Regions from separate parts of the Homo sapiens genome. Here region 1 is linked to region 2. The links come from fine-mapping of genetic effects on gene expression. A gene starts in region 2. The other region holds a variant in brackets. All regions are shown on one strand. Distances are between the middles of the regions.

Evidence for each region. PIP is the estimated chance that this variant, and not a neighbour inherited with it, causes the effect.
Region 1: its variant is fine-mapped to the expression of CD48 in whole blood (TOPMed, PIP above 0.99). The same link has a PIP of 0.9 or more in blood mononuclear cells and monocytes.

The regions. Positions count from the first base shown.
Region 1 is chr1:160,677,448-160,680,363 of GRCh38, reverse strand. It overlaps CD48 (CD48 molecule), which reads left to right. Exons shown (of 4, transcript NM_001778.4): 4 at 1,233-1,618. The coding sequence ends at 1,312. Among named protein-coding and RNA genes, the nearest start is that of SLAMF1, 32 kb to the right of the region's middle. The variant G/A (reference allele first, on the strand shown) is at 1,605.
Region 2 is chr1:160,710,534-160,713,449 of GRCh38, reverse strand. CD48 (CD48 molecule) reads left to right here and starts at 1,628. Exons shown (of 4, transcript NM_001778.4): 1 at 1,628-1,768. The coding sequence starts at 1,687. RefSeq lists enhancers at 600-659, 1,200-1,379.

The sequences.
Region 1 (2,916 bases), 33 kb after region 2:
GTCCTTAGTAAGCGGGAGCTAAATGAGACGCAGTCTCTTAGAGTTTTGGGGACCCTTAATAAACTTGGATCAATATCTCCAGCACTCTGGGAAATACCAGAGTCAGATACCCTCCACAATCCTGAAGTCAGATCCCTGAGCCCTAGCGTACACATTCTTCTAGAATAACTCAGACCTGAGGTGCTCACATTCACCTGTGACCCCTGTCATGCCCAGTCATCAGGGATTCTGGCCTCTGAGAACGTTGCTGTTTTGTGGTCTTCCTGGGCTCTGTCTACCCTCCTTAACTGCACTGATTTCTTTATCTCTACTCCCACATGTGGACTACGGAGACTGTGTATGCTCTTCCTTATTCTTCCTAACTAATTGGCCCTGTCTCTACCAGCCTCTCCTGATATGCCTTGCTCTTCTGCCACCACAGACCCACTGTGACAGTGTGGTATCTGACCATGAGAACACAATTTGGCTGGTGGTTCCAACACCACCCTCATATCAATATCACATCCTGAGATCCAGAAAAAGGAAGACGCACATTCCCTGTCCTCTATAAAATGGGTGTGACTGTTCATCCGAAGAGAGGATAAAAGCAATAATAAATCCATTTTTTTTGGAAGGGTAAACCCATCTGTCACTTTTTAGTCACCGAAATTATCCTAGAAAGCCCCCTCAAACTCCTTTCCCTACTGTATCACTCATTCCTTTTTTTTATTTTCTCCAGCTCAGCCCTTCCCCACCCCAGCATCTAAGCTTTCCTTCCATCCTTTTTCTTTTCCTTTCCTTTTCTGTCTTCCTTTCTCTTCCCTTCTTCTTCCTAGTTGGTGCAGATACTTAGTGGGGTAGAGAAACAAGGAAAGGAAGTGGTCCTTTTCTCTCTAAAGTCAGCTGTGCATTGTATCATGTGGTCATCTGTCTGTACCTGAAGATCTACCCTACCTCGTTGATGTCCAGAGTAGGGGAGCAATGCTTTCCCAGGCCACAGATATGTCGAGGTAACCTTTGAGCACAGGGCCCAGGTAAGCCAGTGATATTTAAGGAATTTCTGCATTTTTTATACTTTATGTTTGGGGAGATTGAGGAAAAGAATGTCCCAGCCAAATAGGATGGGATTCAGGGAAGAAATTAATTTCCCTGCTCTGTGAGCTCCCACACCAGTGTCCAGTACACTTGCCCCTTCTCAATACATTAGTCAAGATAAAGATACCTAAGCATATAGGGTTTTCTTGCTCTTTCAGCCCGGTCCTTTGGAGTAGAATGGATTGCAAGTTGGCTAGTGGTCACGGTGCCCACCATTCTTGGCCTGTTACTTACCTGAGATGAGCTCTTTTAACTCAAGCGAAACTTCAAGGCCAGAAGATCTTGCCTGTTGGTGATCATGCTCCTCACCAGGACAGAGACTGTATAGGCTGACCAGAAGCATGCTGCTGAATTATCAACGAGGATTTTCAAGTTAACTTTTAAATACTGGTTATTATTTAATTTTATATCCCTTTGTTGTTTTCTAGTACACAGAGATATAGAGATACACATGCTTTTTTCCCACCCAAAATTGTGACAACATTATGTGAATGTTTTATTATTTTTTAAAATAAACATTTGATATAATT[G/A]TCAATTAACTGAATTCCTGAAGTTGTCCCAAATCTGTCAGACAGTGCCTGCTCCATCAGCTGGGAGAAACTGGAATCTGGAGACACAGAGGGGAGAGCCTGGAGCCACCGGCTCCTGTGTGTCAACACAGCTGAGGAGCCAATTTGTGCTACTTCTGACCCTTATTCCAACATCCATGCTAAGCTTCCTGGGGCTCCAGCTCCCCTGCCAAGCCTTTGCCTCCTTCCCAGTGGCTTGCCTTGCTCTGACCCCTCTGAGGACCACTCTCCTTAAGTCTGCTGCAAACATAGGTTCAGGCTTGCTCTCGCAGAAGGAAGGATGCAGCTCTATCTCATAAGAAGCCTTCCTGCCCCACAAGCCTCGCATAGGGAGCTGAATTCTCTCTCCTCTTTTCCATTGACTGTGTGGGCAAGTCTTCAACTCCTAGTCGTTTCACTGGATCCAAAAAAACCATCAGATCGACACAGTGTTCTCACCAGAGTTGTCCACTATATGCAGGTAGGCGCCCCCAGGCCCACCACTGACATAACACCTGGGATTTTTGCTTAATGTCCCCTCCTCTAAGTCTCCTCATGTGCCTGGAGCTGAAAGGGTCACTACAGAATGCACTTCCCCTTCAGAAAACTGCCCACCACAGACTGCTTGCCTTTCAAACCAGACCAGCCTCCCCCATCTCCCTCGTGGCCCTTCCCTCCTCACCCCATCTCCTCGGTGACAGATACAGTGCTATGTGTTTGCCAAACCTTCTCATTTTCCCCTGGGTGAGTGAAAAAACTCTTTTTCCCAGCTACTTTTGTGTTTAGCTGGAGCCATGTGATGAAATCTGTCCAATAGAAAGTGGGCGGCATGGATGTGGCAGGAGTGAAGGACTTCGGAAGTCTGGCTATATGATGCAAGGAACTGCATCGGAGCCATTGTTTGGAAGGCAGCTGCCTGCCCTACATTGCACAAGCATGATAAGAAAGGTAGGGTTTTGTCTTTTCCACAAGACAGCCTGGGCTTCCGAAGAAACCCCCCACCCTGAGCCCAGCCTGTAGTCCCATCCAAAATCACCTCTGAGCAGCCTGCATCCCCATCCAAACTCACTTCTGAGCAGTCTGCATCCCATCCGAACTCACCCCTGAGCAGCCTGCATCCCTATCCAAACTCACCTCTGAGCAGCCTGCATCCCCATCTGAACTCACCTCTGAGCAGCCTGCATCCCCATCTGAACTCACCCCTAAGCAGCCTGCATCCCCATCCGAACTCACCTCTGAGCAGCCTGCATCCCCATCTGAACTCACCCCTAAGCAGCCTGCATCCCCATCCAAA
Region 2 (2,916 bases):
GTAACTTTGTATCTATTAACCAACTTCTTCCCATCCTCCACTTCCCTCTACCCTTCCCAGCCTCTGATAACCACAATTTTACTCTCTACTTCTATGAGCTCATTTTTTAAGCTTCCATATATGATTGGGAACGTGGTTTTTTATCTTTCTGTGCATGACTTATTTCACTTAACATAATGTCCTTCAGGTTTGAGGACTGAGAAGAGCAGACATTTTATTGTTCATCTCCATGTTGAGAATCAGAAATGTCCCCAATTAAAAAGTGATTACAAATATGTTATATCAGGAACTGTGGCTTGCCTGTGGGTCCTGGGTGGGCAAATAACTAATTTACATTCAATAGGAATGAGCTTGAAATTTCCTAGACATGATATGATTTGGCTGTGTTCCCTTCCAAATCTCATCTTGAATTGTAGTTCCCATAATCCCCACATATCATGGGAGCAACCCAGTAGGAAGTAAGTTAATCATACGAGCAGTTACCATCATGCTGTTCTCGTGATAGTGAGTTCTCACTAGATCTGATGGTTTCATAAGGAAGGGGCTTTCCCCATTGCTGCTCAGTGCTTCTCTTTCCTGCCACCGTGTGAAGAAGGACGTATTGGCTTCCCCTTGCACCATGATTGTAGGTTTCCTGAGGCTTCCCAAGCCATGCTGAACTAGAAGTCAATTTAACCACTTTCCTGGCCAGGCACAGGCCCATGCCTATAATCCCAGCACTTTGGGAGGCTGAGGCAGGTGGATCACTTGAGGTCAGGAGTTCAAGACCAGCCGGGCCAACATGGTGAAACCCTACTAAAAATACAAAAATTAGCTGGGCATGGTGGTGCTTGCCTGTAATCCCAGCTATGTAGGAGGCTGAGGCAGGAGAGTTGCTTGAACCTGTCAGGTGGAGGTTGCAGTGAGCTGAGATTGCACTGCTGCACTCCAGTCTGGGCTACAGAGTGAGACTGCATCTCAAAAAAAAAAAAAACCAAAACAAACAAAACAAAACAAAACCCCTCTCTTTCCTTTATAAATTACCCAGTCTGGGGTATGTCTTTATTAGCAGTGTGAGAACAGACTAATACAGACTACAAGGGTGGGAAATCCATTCTTTTGGGCCAAGTAATCTTACTTTTTTTCTGATGTTCAGTGGATAGGCTGATGTCAAACTTCAAATAGTGAATTATCATAAAGGAAGAAGAGCAGAGGGTGGTGCTGGGGGTAAGATATGCAGCACAAAGGCTACGTGGGTCTGATTTCCCAGACTTCAGGCTCTGAATGACACCTACCCAGGCTTGACTGGGAAGCTCCTATGTCTTAGCCCCTGAATTAATCAGAGGGATTCCTGCCTGGGAACGAAAAGCAGACATTCTCTATCAGGGTCCCTTATTCTTTTCTGAGTACTGGCCCCCCTGAGAGTACAGTAGAAGCTATGAATCTTCCCCCTACAAAAAAGCACTCATGTACCTTCAAACAAAATTGTTCTCAGTTTCCGTGATGCTCTTAGATAAAAAAATTTACAAGACCTCCGGTTTCTGGTTTCTGGGGCCCCACACAAGTGTGCTGGGTGGAGAGAAAATCTCAGTGGTTTTTTTTTTTTTCTCTCTAACCCTGTTTGGTAAGTTCCGTTTTTAGCCCCGGCCTTTTTCTAGCCAGGCTCTCAACTGTCTCCTGCGTTGCTGGGAAGTTCTGGAAGGAAGCATGTGCTCCAGAGGTTGGGATTCGTGTCTGGCTCTGGAATTGCTACTGCTGCCTCTGTCACTCCTGGTGACCAGCATTCAAGGTACTTTCCACCAACTGTGTATCTGTGATTGTGCACTGAAGGCATGGTCAGTTGGGAAAGGGGAGACGGGATGTAGTTCAACCCTAGAAGCCAGATCTGGTGTCTGGAAAGCAGGTATTTCCATTCCAATAGCATGGCCATGGCATGGTTGGGGAGCCTTTCTTAGCACTGATGAATGGAGCTTCATCTCCTTTCCCACGGGGATGTGATCAAAACAGGAACCTGGGGAGCAAGAGAAGTAGGCTCCTCATATTTTGTCCCGTGGTTGGTGGTCCATGAAGTTGTGGAAAAGTGTTTGTTTTTTCATTTTGAATAAGAAGAAGCTCTACACTGACAGCTGCTGCATTTTATGCTCAGACACACTGTACTCCCTTAGGCATTCTTTGAGACCTCTGTATATGTGAGGTGTTGCATCCTGAGCCAAGGTAAATGATATTGTCATTGACCCAAAGAAAAGATAGATCAAAATTATAGGAAGAAAAGCTTGGAAAGGATTGCTGTCTGGGGTCTCTGAATGAGGGTCTGAGAAGAGGCTGGAAGTGCTTCAGCATCAAAGGAACCTTAACACATCTGATTGCTAAGAGTTAAGGTCCATTCCTCTGCCACAGCCTGTTCGGTCCCCGGTGTGTGACCAAGGGCTGAGCTAACTTTCCTTCTCCTGTTAGAGCTGCCTCACCCTCTTTCTTCATCCAGTACCTCTCTTCTTATGCCAGCTGAGAAACAGCAGTGAAACCTTTGACTTTCTTGCTATTCCCCCAAGTAAATACTCAAGTCTTTTTAATTTAAAGGGCTTTAATGCTCACCACTCTGAGTAAAACAGTAAAAATCAACAAACATGTGGTAGTCACACTGTGGCATAAAATGATGATAGTTTGTAACTTTTGGGGAGATGAGGTAGAATGTGTGGAGGATCGGTCTCTCACATATTCTACCTCTCAGGTAGAGTCCTTTGGTTCATGACTGTGTGAGTCTACGGCTATATAGGTTCTGTGGGCCTGACTCAATGCATAGGACATTGGTATGACCTTGGGATTGGGGGCTGATGTGAAGTATTCATCTAACTATTGGGAAAAGCAGGGTTGCCAATGAGAATTGGAATATTTTAGGACTTTCTCTAGGCATACTGAAAACATCCTGACAGTTGACCT